2 linked regions of the Homo sapiens genome follow. The protein of the gene in region 1 purifies or fractionates together with the protein of each later gene. This does not show direct contact. Each region holds a gene or a part of one and is shown in the gene's direction. Other genes may lie near its edges.

Region 1 (9,072 bases):
CCTTGGAAGAAGGACCTAGATGGTCAGAGGAGTGGCCCGATGGGGCAGCACGGGGCAGGGCAGGAAGGACGGTCAGATCACGTGGCAAGGGCTGTAGATTAGATGTGCCCACCGCAGCCTGGACAGGCCTTAGCAACAGCCTCTGCTGACGCCGCTGATGCGTGCGAGGAGATAGTGGACGGAAGATTCCAGCTAGACGCACGTAAAGGAACTGCCTGTTCACAGGCACACAAGGATCAAGAGGTGTCCGTGAAACCCCCTGGAAAGGCTGCCTGTAATGGACTCCGCCCCTGCCCTCTGGCAGTACAGGCCACATCTGATTCTTGCCAAGGTTAAAGGTGGGCCTTGGAATCTCCAGGCAGATGGTTTGCAAGTCCCCACAGTGGGAGCACCCTCACCCAGCGCTGTCATACCATTCCCTCTGCTAGGACTGTACCTTCTCCAGGCAGCTGGGTGTCCCCTCCCTGGCACCCCCATTCCATCCACGGTTCATCAGTGACATCTCTACCCGCCTGCCGCACCGTCCTGTGTCTTGGGCGCCCTGGGGATGGGGCCTGGGCAGGTGGGCACAGGTCTACTTTGGATGAACAAACGAGGGCACCTTCGCCTCTGAGCCACTCTGCCCAAGGTGGCCGCGCAGCCGGGCTTGAGCTTATCATCTGTGTCCCTCCCGTAGGACGTCAGGCAGCGCTTTGGAGCGTCCCTGGGGAGCCTGTCCTCGGGCCGGGTCTCCATCGTGAGCCTGGCCATCCTTAACCTAAAGCTGGCCGTGGCCATCGCTCTTCGCTTCTCAGCCACTCGGCGTCAGTTTGGACCCACAGAGGAGGAGGAAATACCAGTGCTTGAGTATCCAATGCAGGTATGAGGTTTTCAAGCATCCTTTCACTGTCTCTCTATTTTATATGCAAATTCACTTCTTTTACATAGTTGCCGTTTGGTTACTGGGAGTTGATCAAAGCTCTTAAGGCAATTAACAGGATGATTAGTTAGCGGGAGTGCGGCATCTCAGGCCGCAAGGCTTCCAGCAAATGGTTTTTAATTTAAAAAGAGTAGATACGAAGTAGCCAAAAAAGGAAGATGGAAAGAAGCAAGTCTTTTTTTTTTTTTTTTTTTTTTCCCAGACGGAGCCTTGCTCTGTCACCAAGGCTGGAGTGCAGTGGGCATGATCTTGGCTCACTGCAACCTCCGCCTCCCAGGTTCAAGTGATTCTCGTGTCTCAGCCTCCCGAGTAGCTGGGATTATGGGCATGCACCACCATGCCCGGCTAATTTTTGTATTGTTAGTAGAGACAGGGTTCTGCTGTTTTGGCCAGGCCGGTCTCGAACTCCTGACCTCCAGTGATCCACCTGCCTCAGCCTCCCAAAGTGCTGGGATTATGGGCATGAGTCACTGTGCCCGGCCAGAAAGAAGCAAGGATGGGGCGGCTCTGGGAGGTGGGTGTGTGCACGGCCGCACGTTCAGGTGAGGCCGCCACAGCTTGGCGGGTAGTGGCCTTGCACGCCCTGTGCACACTCTTTGACACTTTCATCCCATCCCTAAGAAATGATTCCTGGCAGGTGATCTGGAAGAAGCAGCAGCTGAGCGTGCAGCCCTGTTCACTGTGATGGCATTTAGAACAGTGGCGTGGGCACAGAGCGTTGGCCCTACACGTCCCCAGAGATGGGGCAGCTGTTGACATGCACAGATGCAGCCCAGGCAGCAGCGTGGAAAAGCACAGACATTGTTACATGGAAGGGGGATGAACTGTCACAGCGAACGTGCCCTGTGCTCTGGGTTTGGTCTTCACAGCTAAGAGGGTTGGGCTTAGTCCCACTTTACAGGTGAGAGAACTGAGGATCAAATAAGAAATCCAGTTAAAGTGCACAGGCTAACTCAGGCCCAGGTCCCAGGCCAAGCTGTGCATGAATAAAGGTAGATTTGGGTGAAACTTCCAGGAAATTGTAACAGAATTGCAGTTGTTTCTGTCCACATCCTTTGACCAGGGCTATGAGCCTGTTTAGTAAGTGTTGCCATTCATGCCTGTGTGGCACCCATCCCCTCCCGTGTGTGGTCACAGCACTCTGGGTGCCAAGGGCAGCTCGGCGGTCAAGAGAGCGCACTGGGGCCACCATGCCTGGCCTTACCACCAAGGTCCACCCCCAGCTGGCTGTGTGCCCCCAGGCAAGGTCCTTAGCCTTTCTGTGCTCTTGCTTTATCATTTGTAAGTTAGAACTGATGATAAAACTTCTTCCTAGGATCAGTGTGAGGATTAACAAAGTTAGGGCATGGAGGCAGCTGGCGCCATGTCTGCTCAGCACTCTTGACACGTTAGACCATGGTGGTGATGGCGGTTTCCTCAGGATCCTCTCAGGCTTGTCCTGCCATGTACCCAGCCACCCACCCACCCATCCATGCATCCCCCCACCTGTCCACGCATCCCCCCACCTGTCCACGCATCCACCCACCCATCCATCTACCCATCTACGGATTCATCCATCCACCCACCCACACATCCACCTACCCACCACCCACCATCCATGCATCCATCCACCCACCCACCCACCCCCCCATCCAACAATAGGTGGACCCTATCCTGTTTCAGACAAAGTGAAAAAGACATGCACTCAGCCTTTCGAGGGGCTGCCAGCTCTGTGTGGGCCTCAGCTTTCCCATCTGTCCCAGGGTGACGGCCTCATCCTCACAGGCTCATGCTGTCAGCCAGTCAGTCCGTGTGCCGGGGAGTTGGCCCCTAGCAGTGCTGCCTTCTTAATTCACAGATAGACTGGCACTTTGTTCTGTAGTGACTTTGATGGGACAGCTGTGAATAGCGGCCATTTAGCGAATTGCGTTTGAGCTTGTCTGTCAAGGGCTATGGGTGAAAGCCGAACTGGCTGAGTTGAGAGCGTGTCAGGGTGAAGGCTTTCTGATGTGCCGGGAAGACATGTGAAGACCTTCAGCGCTAGTGGGTGTGTGGCCCTGACGGCCTCTCCCTGCACTGGCTTTCATGGTCCCTGGGATGGGCTGCCCTTCATGGGAACCACGATGTGTTCACGCAGGTGTCTTGTCTGTTCTAGCAATGGCGCTTGCTTCCATATCTGGCAGCTGTCTACGCCTTAGACCATTTCTCCAAGTCGCTCTTCCTGGACCTGGTGGAGCTCCAGCGAGGACTTGCATCGGGAGACCGCAGCGCCAGACAGGTGAGGTGGTGTCTGCTTCCTCAGCAGCATCGTTTAAATCTCACACGGTTGGAGCAGCATAGATTCAACCTTCATTTCAAAGCAAAATCAGTCCTTTGATTTGCGAGGACAGAGCATTCCTCCAGTTGTTCCCACCCACTCGGAGCTCTTGGCCTCTGCCGCGATTGAACGGGCTGGGCACGCGTCCACACCCCTGCCTCTCAAGGATGTGCTGACACGACTCCCGGTTCCAGTCTGTGAGTTCAGCTGTTGGTCTCCTTTTGAGAACATGACGGTTTTGCAAAATCCACGTTACCCGCCCCTCAGTGGATTTCATGGTTCTGAGCCTTTTGTAAACAGCTGCACAAAGGTCTGAATCCCACTGACTGGATTTGAGTTGACAGTCAGAGGATTTGTGCCAGAAACGAGCGTGCAAATCCCGAGATCAGCCTCGGCATAAAGAGACATCGGGAACGGATTTCTTTGTAGATGATTATGAACTGATTTTCCATTGTCCCTCCTGCTGCCTCCTGAGCAAGAGTGAAATGTGAATCAAAAGAAATAACCGTGTTTGAAAGCAGAGGAGAAACGCCACAGATTGCTGTTATGTACAACATCAGAAAAAGCCTGTATCTAATTAGCATATCTTGAAATATTATCGGTGTCCACATTCACGGCAGATGATGGCGAAGGGATGACCTGCAGGATTGATGGCAGAGCAAACCCCAGGCCTGGAGGCCTGAGGAGGGAGCGCTTCTGACCACTAAAGGGGTTAAGCCTGTGTTTTCCCTGGAGCGTGAGTCAGTGGAGCTTTTGCCAGCTGACACTTGCATTGTTCTCCTGTGAATAATGTTGTAAAGGGTGACCAGGCTGATTCTTTCTGAAACTCAGTGGTTTAACCCAGGCAGAGGAGGGCCTCAGCTCAGCCCCTTATGTGAAGTTGAAAACACTCATAAAATGGGTCACTGGACTTAGCATGCGTGTGTGTGTGTGTGTGTGTGTGCGTGTGTGTGTGTGTGTGTGTGCGTGTGTGTGTCTTCCTCTTAATTGTTTTTCCTTTTTAATTGTCTTTCTTTTTTAAAATTAAAAATTCTTCTTTTACTCTGAATCAGTCTCTTAAGTTTTTGTTTGTTTGTTTGTTTGTTTGTTTTTGAGACGGAGTCTCGCTCTGTTGCCCAGGCTGGAGTGCAGTGGTGCGATCTTGGCTCACTGCAATTTCTGCCTCCTGGGTTCAAGCAATTCTCTTGCCTCAGCCTCCCAGACTAGCTGGGACTACAGGTGCCCGCCACCACACCTGGCTAATTTTTTTTATTTTTCAGTAGAGACAGGGTGTCACCATGTTGCCCAGGCTGTTCTCAGACTCCTGAGCTCAACTGATCTGCCCGCCTCGGCCTCTCAAAGTGCTGGCATTATAGGCGTGAGCCACTGTGCCTGGCCCAGCCTCTTAAGTTTTCATCATTAGATATCAAGCAGAAGCAAAGGAGTCTTCTTTCTTTTTTTTTTCCCCTTAAAAAAAAGCCTGCAGCACCTGCTATTCCCAGGCGGTCTCCCATCCAAATACTAACCACGCCCGACCCTGCTTAGCTTCACGAGATCAGGCTCATTCAGGGTAGTTTGGCCATGGACAGCAAAGGAGTCTCAATAAAACATGTTAGGCCTGAGGGAGGCACGGTGAGCCCCCACACAGAGCAGACCATCAGTTACCGAGGCGCTTGCAGCCTTCTGGGAATGGACTGGTCCCGGCCCTTCCCTGTCCTGGGAGCGAGCACTGTCTGCGGTGCTGAGTCTGGTTCCCTGGCCTTTCTTCATGGTTTCGCTGCAAACAATTGCAACCTTCCATGGTGTGTCATTCACTTTGACGTTTGTGAACTTTATATAAAGTGGGCCATGACGCACATTCTTCTGCAGTTTGCTTCTGGGACCCGTGTTAGGGCCCTGAGAGCTATTTGCTGTGTAGAGCTGTGTTTTCATTGTTGTGAAATGGTATGAGCGTACCACAGTGTATCCATACTTGGATAAAGACCCTTTTTTATTTCTAATTACAATTAGGTTTCCTCTTCTGTCATTTTCGGGATGTCTTGTATTAGACTAGAGGTGATATGGTGGTTTGATGCTATTGCTGACTTATGACTTTTTGGTGTCTAAAGTCTCTTTTCACCTGTTCTTGTTGGATTCCCTCACCCAAAGGCAGAGCTTGGACGTGAGATCCACGCCCTGGCATCGGCCAGCAAGCCCCTGGCCTCGTGGACCACCCAGCAAGGAATTCAGGAATGCCGGGAGGCGTGTGGAGGACACGGCTATCTGGCCAGTAGGTTTTGGAGAAGCGCATGGTGGTTTCCTGTCCTTAGCCCTGCTGTTTGACTCTAGACCAGGGGTCGGCAGACTGCGGCCTGAGGACCAAATCCAGCCTGCCACCTGTTTTTGCAAATAAAGTTTTATTGGAACACAGCCAGCCACCCCCGTTCATTTGCACATTTCCTGCAGCTGTTTTCGCACTGCAAGGGCAGAGATGAGTAATCGCAGCTGTGACAGAGACCATGTGGCTTACAGAGCTGAAAATATTTACTCTCTGGTCCATTGCAGAACAAGTTTGCCAACCCCTGCCCTAGATAGATCCCACTGCTTTCAGATGCCTGATGCTTCTTGGCCAAAATATAGGCAGAGAGCAGCTGATCTGCTCATTTGAATTTTAACTATTTGGTTAACAGCTTGGTAGTAAACTAGCACCATGTTTTGTTTGAATAGAAAATTCTTACACTTAGATAAAGAGTTAGTTATATCGGCATTGATGATGACTGAGGCAGCTGTTATATGGTTAAGAGCGGAGGCCACCAGCTTGCCTGGGATTGAGTCCTGGCTCCATCTAACAGCCTGGTAACTGTGGGCAGGTTGCTTAACCTCACTGTGCTCAGTTTTCTTATTTTTAAAGTGGGGGTGATAATAGTGTACCCACAACATAGGTTCTTGCCAGAATTAAGTGAATTACCACGTATGAAGTGTAAGCATGGTATCTGGCATGTAGTGCGTGCCCAATGACTTTTTTATTTGCTAATGCTGTTATTATTAGAATTATCATCAGCATTATTTACAGCTTACCTGCAAAACTTCCCGTGTGCTAATCTTAAATAATTAACTGGCAAAAACTGGTTGCTCAAAGAAGGCCATGTACACACTCAAAACAGCCACAGCATCAGCAAAACTCTCTTGCCCTCCAGGAGCACTTGGTCCTTGCCAAGTTTGTGAGAGTTTTTGTGATGCTCTATCTAGAACTACACACACACTTTCAGCGATCATCCGCCCACCACTGCAGTTCTAACTCGCACCTGTTCCAGCATGGGCTGTTAGCAACGTGGCCCCTCACTCCCACCACAATCTGTCTTTGTCACTTACTGACATGCGGGTAGCCATGGCTGTACACAAGTTACTCATTTGCATGCTTTGTCCTCTGCGCAATGCCCTTAGTAGTTTTTGTCTTTGTAACTCATCGGGATTCTATAAATAGTTGAATAAGGAAATTGAATCTTGCAGTACTGCAGACAACAAAGATGATGGAATCAAGATTAATCATATACATATACATATACATATACATATACATATACATATACACATACATATACATATACACATACATATACATATGCTGGGATTGAGACCAATATGACCGAGGCTCCATCTAGGTTTAGAAAATCAATTGCAAATGTTTCTGCTGAGGCCTCTCCCAGCTCTTGTTCAGTGGCCAACCTGTTACGTGGCAGGAAGCTCGTGGCATGATTTGACAGTAAGTCAGGAGAAAATCAGGTGTTCTAGGTGATCACAAGGCTAATCACAAGCGTGTTGGCAGTATGGCTGCAATAGGACTCCTTTCATGCTCTCAGGATCCATCAGTCACAGTACGTGAGTGTGAGAAGTCAGCTCCACTCCCTTCCTGCTAGGCCCATCCCAGCCTCACATTCAGAGAACACTTTCCATCACAGTAGGCAGGCTCAAGTGTGTGAGGGTCTGGAAAGCAAGCCTGACAACATATGTGAAGGCATCCAGCTAACTGATAGGAAAGACAAAAAACAGTTATCTTGAAATTTCCTGTGTTAAAAGAAGAGTTCATTCAGTTATGGACGGAAGAAGGGTAGCCCTGGGGGCATCAGCTCGCTGAGATGGCTCCCTCCTATCAGCAACCCCATGCCAGGGGAGGCTCTGCAGGGCTTGCTGACAGCAGTGAGGAGCTGGAGGTGGGATATGAAGCACAGGTGGCAGTTCTTTGTGTCTGGTCAAGCTGAGTTCAGGGCTTTTTTTTTTTTGGTCAGAGTCTTGCCCTGTCCCGGAGGCTGGAGTACAGTGGCATGACCATGGCTTACTTTTGCCTCAAATGCCTGGGCTCTTAAGCAATCCTCCCACCTCAGCCTCCTGGGTAGCTGGGACTAAAGGTGCGTGCCACTATGCCCAGCTAATTTTTTTTTTCATTTTTTATAGAGATAGGGTCTCACTATGTTGCCCAGGCTGGTCTCAAACTCATGGCTTTTTTTGTTGTTGTTGTTGTTGAGACAGGGTCTTGCTCTGTCACCCGGGCTGGAGTGCAGTTGCGCAATCTCGGCTCACTGCAACCTCCGCCTCCCAGGCTCAAGCGATTCTCCTGCCTCAGCCTCCCGAGTAGCTGAGATTACAGGCACACACCACCACACCTGGCTATTTTTGTATTTTTAGTAGAGGTGGGTTTCACCATGTTGGTCAGGCTGGTCTTGAACACCTGGCTTCAAGTGATCCACCCGCCTCGGCCCCCCAAAGTGCTGCCATTACAGGTGTGAGCCACCGCACCCAGCCTCTTAAGGCTTTTTAAATTCTCACATAGTGACAGGCTGCTTCTCAAATATGCGTCTTAAATGATGGTACTATTGTGGCTTTGTTGCAGTGAACCGGTTGGGTGTCCTTAGAGATGACAACGATCCCAACTGCACATACGAAGGTGACAACAACATCCTGCTGCAGCAGACAAGCAACTATTTGCTGGGTCTCCTGGCACACCAGGTCCACGGTGAGGCTCTGCTGCACACTGGTGGGGGCGCTGGAACCCAACTGGGGCAGGGGTGGGTTCTCCTGGCCTCACTGATTCAGCTGTTCTGTGAATGCATCCTAGGTTTGCAGAAGGAAAGAAATGTTATTAGATAGTGCCGACCAACTCCCCAAGGCATGGGCAAAGGCTGGGGTGGGGAGGGTCCTTGAGACCCAGACCCTCGCCTGTGGGTCTGTGGCCGTCGGGTCCTCTGGACACTCTCTGTGCTTTGGGGTGCCCCCAGCTTGGGGTTCCCAATGGTTTGGGTTCCTGTCTTCCACCAAAGTCACTGGAATGTGTGTCCTAGATGGAGCTTGCTTCCGCAGTCCGCTGAAGTCAGTGGACTTTCTGGACGCCTATCCCGGCATCCTTGACCAGAAGTTTGAGGTCTCCAGTGTTGCCGACTGCTTGGACTCTGCAGGTAAACACACAGGTGGAGGGCTCCCCTGGCCTCCTGATTTCCTGTCATTCCCACCAGGAAACGCACCGTGCCTCGGTGAGGGGACCCTTGGCAGTTCCAGCCGGGGCAGCAGTGGTGGTGGGAGGCCCCGCATGCAGCTTGTCCTGGGCTGGCTCATGGACTATCTCTTTGTGCCTGACGCCGAGTTAGGCGCTGACTCCACAGATGAATTGAAGGATGCCCACTTGCCACCTTATACCTTGCCTCTTGCCTTTCCCTCCCATAGGATAAAGGGCGTGAGAGGCCACCTGGCCTGGTCTCTGTCCACTAAGCAGCCTCTGCCCCCTGCCCTGGTGCCTGGGCTGCTGCTGTCCCTGGGCCCTCCCAGCCACCTCACCTGTCAGTCTTCCCCACTCCCAGGCCCTGCTGGCTCCCCAAACAGCAGATGCCCCTTCCCGCCCTGGCGCACC
Region 2 (9,072 bases), about 80 Mb from region 1:
CTTTCACATCGTAGGCTTATTAACCTTCAACTGAAAATTGCAAGTCTGAATTACTCAATTAAGTACTTTAAAATAGAATCACAAAGCTGACCTGTTACTCTGATAGGCCAAATCACTTTAAGCATTACAAACAGCTAAAATACCAGATATACATAGATTCTTTAATGCAAAAATGTTAATACAGTAGGTTTTGAGTCTCTTAAAGATTCACTTAAATCTAAACCTTAGATGATTTAGCTAAGTATCTAATAGTTGCCACTAAGAGAACATCCCAAATATTGAAGTTACTTTCAAATGGACTTTTTAGTGGTGGTGTCTCAGTTTGTTGAAGGTTCTTAATGATCAAAGAGCTGCCATTTTATTTCCTTTATTCAATTCTTACTCCTTTGTGCTACAGGTGTTCCACATACCACTACTATAGTACACATTCTTTGTAATTGTTTATTTAATATCTGTTTTTACTACAAAGATGTGAGCTATTAATGGCAGGATAATTGGATGATTTATTTTAGCATCACCATTGCTAGGAGTGCCTATCACATACATTGCTGAGTACAAATTTAATAAATGGCCTCTCCTCCTCTGCCTAATTATCGTCCCCTTTAAAGAACAGCATATTCTTCTTCCTCTTCTTTTTTGCCCTTGTTAGATTTTTGTCTCTTTAATCAAAAGTTGTGTTAAATAAGAGGACCATGGAGGTAAGAGTGATTTGATTCAGTTCTTGATTTAGGACAGGTAATGTCTTAGATTCATTTCTTCCAAAAATTAATTTAATTTTGTGGGGAGAGGAAGAGTGGCAGTAAGAAAAAAGAAGTGCTAGATGTTATGTTGTGTGTAATACTAGGGAAAATGTTTATAACATTAATGGCAAAAATATTTCATTTGTTGATGACCAAAACACAATTAAGGTTTTTAACGGCATTTCATTTTTAAAAATGAAGTAATCTGTTCTACAGTAATAGCTTAATATTCATTATTCATGTTCAAATTATGGATGACTTCCAAGACTTTGATTTGTATATAGTTTTCTATTATAAGTTAATTGAAATAAATTCACTAATTTATACCTTTGTATTGTGGAAAGTAACATAGCTTTGATGTCAAACAAGCCTTGGATTCCAATACTGGCTCTTTTACTTGTAAGGTGAATGACCTTGGGCAGGTTAACTTTTCTAAGCCTCAGTTTCCTAACTTAAAAATTACTTACTATGTACCTTACAGGGTTATGGGGAGGATAGAAGGAGACAAGTAGGTAAAATACAGTATGTGCTTGCACTGTATGGACTCCCTCTTCCCCACCTCAAGGGTACAATTTCTCTATTATCTGTCTTTGTTCTTCTGACCTGCTTCTTTTCTACAACTGATTGTGACAAGAGTAATGGTGATGGGGAATTGTTGAAGCAATTCTCTGCCTCAGCCTCCCGAGTAGCTGGGATTACAGGCATGTGCCACAACGCCCGGCTGATTTTTTTTGTATTTTTAGTAGAGATGGGGTTTCATCATATTGGCCAGGCTGGTCTCGAACTCCTGACCTCAGGTGATAAGCCCACCTTGGCCTCCCAAAGTGCTGAGATTACAGGCGTGAACCACTGTGCCTGGCCTTAAAAAGACTTTTAGGCAAGATGGTGTTATTTATTACTGACATTTTATTTAATTGGGAATATTTCTGATAATTGTGTTTGTGTGTGAATATCTATCTGAAAAAGAAAGCCTTTTCTGTTTTAGGTTAATACAAAAGCTGAACCAGCAAACAATATTACAAGTTTCCTGTGGCAACTGGCATTGCTTGGCTCTTGCGGCTGGTAAAGTAACATTAAACATATGCTAATGCTATGTTAATTTTGAAAACATTTCTCTTTGTCTTTTTGTGTGATATTATCTAACTGAAAACTTTGAATTAACTGGTTAGGGTCTATGCATTGCTGTTGGACAGTGACAATTCTCATATGGGCTTTGCATAGCTCATCCTTTTCTCAGGGTGTGGGTGATGAAGTAGGTGGTCATCATTGCTGCTCCAACTTTCACAGGGGAAGATAAGCAGGGGGCAGGACCATACCTAGGTGTTCTGAGCATGGAGGAGATTGATTTTTCTTAGCGACAGCCAACTCTCAAGCTACATTCCACTATCAAGCTCCCAAATGAATGAAAAAGAAGGAGTTGGAGAAACCTAAATAAATCTGCACTTCTGTGTCCTGCTTGATTATCTGCAGAGCAGACCAAGTGGTCATTGCTGGACCTCCCGAAGTCTTGGGTCTCATAGTCTTAGTGTGGTCAGAACTAGTGTGATCTTGCTTAAGCCTGGTAATTGGCCTGTCCGAAATTGAATTTACTTATACATTTAATATTTTCTGTGTATAAATTTTAATAGCCTTTGAAGGGCAGTAAGACTCAGCTTACCTCTCTGTTATATCACTTGGGAGTTTTGGTTTTGGCAGTCTGATAGCATGAAGTATCTCTGTTCCTTTGCTCTTGGGTGGGTTTGGTGTTGGGGGGCAACTGGCAAATGACCCTAATAACTAGATTATTTTTGTGTGTGGAGCTTGTATCATTTTATGGTAATACCAGTTATCCTGTTATTTCAGATGGCCAGTTCTTCACCTGGGGAAAGAACAGCCATGGGCAGCTTGGCTTAGGGAAGGAGTTCCCCTCCCAAGCCAGCCCACAGAGGGTGAGGTCCCTGGAGGGGATCCCACTGGCTCAGGTGGCTGCCGGAGGGGCTCACAGCTTTGCCCTGTCTCTCTCAGGAGCTGTTTTTGGCTGGGGGATGAATAATGCCGGGCAGCTAGGGCTCAGTGATGAAAAAGGTAGGTAAACCCTTCATATGTATGTATTTAGTTTAAAAGCACATTCATTTAACACATGCTTCTTGAGGATCTACTATGTGCTAGCCCCATGTGAGATACTAAGGGAGAAGCAGTGAACACAATAGAGAACATCCTCGTCTTAGTGGAGACTGTATTCTAGTGAGTAGAGGTGCAACAAAACCAGTAAATACACAGGATTTGAGAGTGCAGCTTCCTGCTTTACATAAGGTGGTGGGGAAGGGCCCCTCTGATAAGAAAATGTTTGAGCAGAACCTGTAGGAAATCAGGTGGGAGATGGGACATGTAAATGTCTGGGTGAAAAATGTTCCTGTCAGAGAGAACTGGGTGTGCAAAGGTGCTCATGTGGGAAGAGATGTAGTTGGAGAGAAGGGGAAGAGTAGCACAGCTGCAGGTCAGAGAAGTCGTGTAGACCCAGTTATGCAGGGCCCTGAGGGGCAGGGTGAGGATATAACTGGTTTTCTCAGTGAGAGGGGAAGACCCTGAGGGTTTGGAGGAGAAGCGTGATCCACTTTGGCTTTGGCTGTAGTGGGTCAAGGGGGAAGCTGGAAGACCAGCTTGGAGGTTGTGGGAGTAAAGTCAGATTTTAAACATATTTTGAAGATGAGGCCAGTTGGTTTTGTTCACTGTTGGATGTGTGGTTTGAAATAAAGGAACAGCTGGAAGGGCAAAATGACTGTTTCTGAAATGGGGAAAACCGTGTGTAGTAAAGTGAGCTGGAGAGTGGGCAGGGTTGGAGAGTGTAGGGAAACCATGAGGTAGGTTTTAGGTAAATTAAAACTGAGAAGTCTGTTGGATATCCAAGTACAGATGCAGGCAGGAAACTGAACATGCGTCAGGAATCCAGGAATCCAAAATTCATGCCAAGATAGTTGTGTATATTTCATCTCAAAGGCAAATGGTAGTGATATTCTGATATTTAATTTATTCTAGATCGAGAATCTCCATGCCATGTAAAACTCTTACGCACGCAAAAAGTTGTCTATATTAGTTGTGGAGAAGAACACACAGCAGTTCTCACAAAGGTAAGGAGCTCAGAGTATTTTACTTTGGTGCTGGGGATATGATGGGTGATTAGAATTGCTTGATTATGTTAGTGTAGTGATGGTGTGTGATTACAGTATTGTGGCTTGAACTTGAATGCTCTCTTTTATGTGGGTTTGTTGTTTTCCAAAGGAATAGAAAAAGACTACTTTTTTGTATGTCTCTGTTATCCTCTTTGGTAATCTTGTAGATTTTTCATATATATATATATATATATATATATATATATATATATACACACACACACATAATGTAGATTATATATATATACACACATATAATGTAGATTATATAAAAATGTAGATTATATATATAAATATAATGTATATATTTATATATATATAAATTCCTTGGTTCTTTATGGAACAAAGACAGCACTTTGTTATTTTTATTTGTTATTTTATGTATATATAATATATATAAAATGATGTCCTATGTTCCTTTAAAACAAGTCATTTAAATATGTAAAAAAGAAACAGCAATTTAATTAATGTTTTAAAATAATCATGTTTCTTTTGCTTCTAAATACATTCTAGAGAGAATGAAAATGTATTTTTATATTGAACAAATATTATTCTACGTTCACTTTGATAAAATGCCTTAACATTTATTTAAATACAGCTGTTAAAAAAACAGCTTACTTACCAAGGAATTTGTAGAGCACCTAATTTCTTACATGTGAATGATCATGTAAAATCATCTCATTTAGCCTAGCTCCTAGTTTCTCCTTTTTTAAAATTTTGCTTCCTAACACATCATTGTACTTTCAAACGATTTTAAAAATTTACAGAAGGCACACATTCCTTTGAGCATTGCTATCTTTGTTCCATAAAGATGCAGTCTGAAATTCCCTTTTTATTATTTTTCTATTTAATGAACATCCTTACAAAGTGATTTTGGCCAAGTGTCAAGTGAATGTAGTGCTCTTGTGCACATTGTTGTGATAGGCATTTTGTATACAGGGTTTAGAGGTATACCCTTAAAGATACAGTGAAGTCCTATGGTGTTTGTTCCTTGTTAGAGTGGAGGTGTGTTTACCTTTGGCGCTGGTTCCTGTGGGCAACTTGGACACGACTCCATGAATGATGAGGTTAACCCTAGAAGAGTTCTAGAGCTGATGGGTAGTGAAGTAACTCAAATTGCTTGTGGCAGGTGAGTGTTCCTCAAAGCTTGCTTGTATTCACTAGGACCCAGAAATTGGTCTTATCTTTGTAGTGATGAAGAATGTGATTATACCTAGTCACCGTCATTTTAAGAGATCTTAACTGCATGCACGCCTATGGTGAAATGTGGAGAAAGACCTTGATAGAGTGTGGCAAGGAAGGGTTTTAGATAAGCAGAGCAACACGGAGACATTAGGCTTCTTTTGGGATAAAGAGTAGCAGGATGTGGGGAAGGGATAAAGAAAGGAAAAGTGAGAGAGTCCCAAAGAACTTCTTGGAAATTTTTGCCTGAGTCTACCCTGCTTCTCTCTGTTCATCTTAGAGGCCACATGCAGTAGATCATTCAGCTCTTTCCTGACTTGCCACCCTCCTCATGATCTAGAGTGTTAGAGGATAGTATTATGGAGAGCAGCCGCTGCAAGAAGAGTCACGTGTTAACATGGGAAAGGCTCTATAGGAGCACCCTGTGCTGTGCACATGTGGAAGTTAAAAGTCAGAGTCAGAGTGTACATCCACATTAGTAGAAACTATGCTGATGAGTTAAATTATTTTTTCACAGACAACATACCCTAGCCTTCGTGCCTTCTTCTGGACTCATCTATGCATTTGGTTGTGGAGCAAGAGGTCAATTAGGAACTGGGCACACTTGTAATGTTAAGTGCCCATCTCCTGTCAAGGGTTACTGGGCTGCCCACAGTGGCCAGCTTTCAGCCCGAGCTGGTAAGAATGATTGTCTCTGGAATTTAAAGGTATTTTAAGTGATGAAAACAGTTGTTTACAGAATATGTATCTATTACTTACTTTGAGGTCTTTTGGAGGGAATGAAGATAAGGTATTTTTTAACATCAATTAATAATTTCTGTACTTACTATGCATGAAGCTGTAGAGTTGAGATCCTAGAGAATAAATAAAGCAGGAAATACTGTTGTGTTAGGCCGTTCTTGCATTGCTGTAAAGAGCACCTGAAACAGGGTGATTTATGAAGAAAAGAGTTTTAATTGGCTCACAGTTCTGCAGGCTCTACAGGGAGCATGATGCAGCCATCTGCTTGGCTTCTGGGGAGGCCTCAGGAATCTTACAGTCATGGCAGAAGGCAAAGAAGGAGCAGACACTTCACATGGCAGAAGCAGGAGCAAGAGGAAGAGTGGAGAGGAGGTGCCATACTTTTTACACCACCAGATCTCATGTGAACTCAGAGCAAGAGCTCACTTATCACCAAGGGGATGGCCCAAGCCATTCATGAGGGATCCGCCCTCATGATCTAAACACATACCACCATGCCTCACCTCCAACATTGGGATTACTGCAATTCAACATGAGTTTTGACCAGAACATACATTCAAACTATACCAGTTATTTTGTTTCCACAGACCTTGGTGGTGGTGTATACATTTTATTGTTGTTGCTAATAATGACAGTTCGCATGTATTGAATGCTTAATGACGTTTCATTACTATGCAAAGCACTCAAAATAATCTAAGAACTAGTTAGTGGTTATTATCCCCATGTTAGAGATAAGGGAACAAAGTCTTAAGGAGGTCAAGTAATTTGCCCAAGATCACATAGATTCTGGAGGCAGGATTTAAACCCAGGTCATTCTAAATCATGTGTACTATGTTACCTCTACTTTGCTGTTGGCATTTTGGTATATAACATGATGTGATTTCTTTTTAAGCCATTTTTTTTCTTCCCTTAAAAAATAGTTAAATAGCAGTCTTGGTTTCATTGGAAATCAAAGTCAGGCAGTCATTAATATTGAATGACTGCTTCACCTTGAAATAATAAATCTGAGGCTGAAATGGAGCTAGAGAATCATTAAAAGGAAGTGTAACTTATTAATTTTGATTTTGAAGTCGATAAAGTGACACACTTATGGCTTGATCAGGAATTTGTTTGAAACAGTAACCATCATAAGTTTTAGTACTGGATTATAAGAAACTCAAGGACACAGACAAACTCTTTTCCTTTTTGTAAACCTAGCATATAGCACAGGACCTGGCATGAACTTGTCACTCAGTAGACATTTTTGGAATGGATATATGAGCATCTGAAATGTAGTGCAACTTAAAATATAAATAAACAAGATTTTGTCTGGGTGATGTTCCCAGAAGCAAAAGAATGGCTTTGTGTCCTCTTCTCTGTAATTTGTAAATTCTTTTCTCCAAGACATTGTACTCATACGTGGAATACATTTATTTAGAAAGTTTACCAACTCAGGTGTTTTTTGGTTATTTCAAAACCACAAATTTTTGAAGTTGAATTATAACCTGACTTCCATGGTCCTAAATTTGTGCTTGGATGTTTGCCAAAATGATTTTATAACATAAGCAGGTAAATGTCAGTTATGTAAATGACATGGTTTTAGGAACCCTCTTGGTAATGTGGGAGCACAGAGGAAGGCATGGAGGAGTATTGTGGTTAGAGGAAGTTTGAGCTGTGCCTCGAAGGATGATTTGGAGTTAGCCAGGTGTAGAGGACTGTGAGGGAGTTGGTGTGAGCACCACCAAGGTGCAGTTCCAGAAGCACATTCAGGTTGTGCTCTCGGTGGGCACATTCATGGAGAATCCCATGTGCCAGGGGCAGCAGAGGGGGGAGGCACCGAGATGTGAAATAGTGTGGTGTATTAGAAATAAAGGCAACGTGGTAGTAGGAGAATGTCACCGTGGACACAGTGTGATGGGAGGTAAAGCAGGGAGCAGGAAACGGAGGTCCTTCCGTGGCAAGATTCGTCCTGACGGGGCCTGGGCCCACCACACTCACATGCTGAATTGTTACCATAAAGAATAGTGCCCATTTCAGATTTCAGGTCAGTGGCATGACAGAGTTAGAATGAAAAAGAGAAACTAGGTCAGGATTCACTGGCAGTTGGGGAGGGGCAGAAGAAGAGTTAGAGTGGAGGATACCATTTTATATATTTATTTTTAATTGAAGTAGAAACAGTCCTAGGCAGTGAGCCAGGGGAGAAGATTTCTTACTTCTGTGACACAATTAAAATGGATAGGTACCCACTCTGAAGTGTATTCTGCGACAGTAGAAAAGGGGATCAAGGAGAAACTTCAATTAATGAAAAATATGCTTTCGGAATTTTTTTTTTGACAGATCGCTTTAAATATCATATCGTTAAGCAGATCTTCTCTGGAGGAGACCAGACTTTTGTACTTTGCTCCAAATACGAGGTAAAATTTTTCTTGTGACTCTTATTTCCAGGAAGGAATAATAGTGAACCAACATTTCTTTTAACAAGTAATTACAACATAAAGAGCAATGTTACTCTTTGTTTCTACCAATCCTATGTTATTTTTAAAATAAGCAAACTAAATCTGGAAGAAGTTGTCTCCATTTGGCTCCCTTGAAGTGCCAACAATTCTCCTGGAATTATGGAGTTCTAATTTATAATTTGAAATTATTTATTTATATTTGTACTTGTTCCAGAAACTCTGTAAAGGATGCCTAGGGAGTTGGTGCTTACTTTGGCATTATTTGATTTTCCATTTCTTTTCTTCCCTGTTAAGTGGCAACAAATGCTAGGTGTTTGAGAACTTGGTGGGTTTCTTTGTTTGATGTGATTGAGTATATATATGTATGTAAGAGGTACCACAATTTTCAGATGTATTTTATTATTTGTAATCTGCTTATGACATGACACCAAAATTTCCCTTCCATTGTCTCCTGCATCACTATAGTGGATAAAGACACTGTGACATTGTCTTTCTGCCTGAAGGTAGAGTGTGGATCCAGGTTTCTGTGACAGGGCTCGAATTCCTTCCACTCTTCCTTGCTGGGGGAATTCAGTCTGGAAAAACTCCACAGATTTGTTGTCAGTGCTGGACTCCTTCCCCTGTGCTTTCTCTCCTCTCTTCTCTTCTTCCCCACCCTTCCTGCTTTTATTCAGCAAACATTTCAACAGGACCAGCTCCGAGTGGTGCATGGATCCTTATACTCTCTTGGAGGAGCAAGGGAATGGGCTGTTAGTGAAGAAAAAGGAGTCAGAATTGACTGGGAAGATAATGAGCAACTGTGGAAACCAGGGGCTCTTTCTGTCT

The links.
Region 2: the proteins of ACOX3 (region 1) and HERC3 purify together in Homo sapiens (affinity purification with mass spectrometry; 2 studies listed by BioGRID and IntAct, with this or other methods). This does not show direct contact.

What each region holds. Positions count from the first base shown.
Region 1 is NC_000004.12:8,388,724-8,397,795, reverse strand, and holds part of ACOX3 (peroxisomal acyl-coenzyme A oxidase 3), read left to right. Parts: intron 1-676; coding exon 677-859; intron 860-3,053; coding exon 3,054-3,176; intron 3,177-5,342; coding exon 5,343-5,463; intron 5,464-8,061; coding exon 8,062-8,184; intron 8,185-8,509; coding exon 8,510-8,623; intron 8,624-9,072. UniProt on the Homo sapiens protein: Oxidizes the CoA-esters of 2-methyl-branched fatty acids.
Region 2 is NC_000004.12:88,650,287-88,659,358, forward strand, and holds part of HERC3 (probable E3 ubiquitin-protein ligase HERC3), read left to right. Parts: intron 1-1,725; coding exon 1,726-1,802; intron 1,803-2,582; coding exon 2,583-2,804; intron 2,805-3,755; coding exon 3,756-3,847; intron 3,848-4,887; coding exon 4,888-5,018; intron 5,019-5,588; coding exon 5,589-5,749; coding exon of another isoform or gene 5,750-5,787; exon of another isoform or gene 5,788-7,148; intron 7,149-8,128; coding exon 8,129-8,205; intron 8,206-9,072. UniProt on the Homo sapiens protein: E3 ubiquitin-protein ligase which accepts ubiquitin from an E2 ubiquitin-conjugating enzyme in the form of a thioester and then directly transfers the ubiquitin to targeted substrates.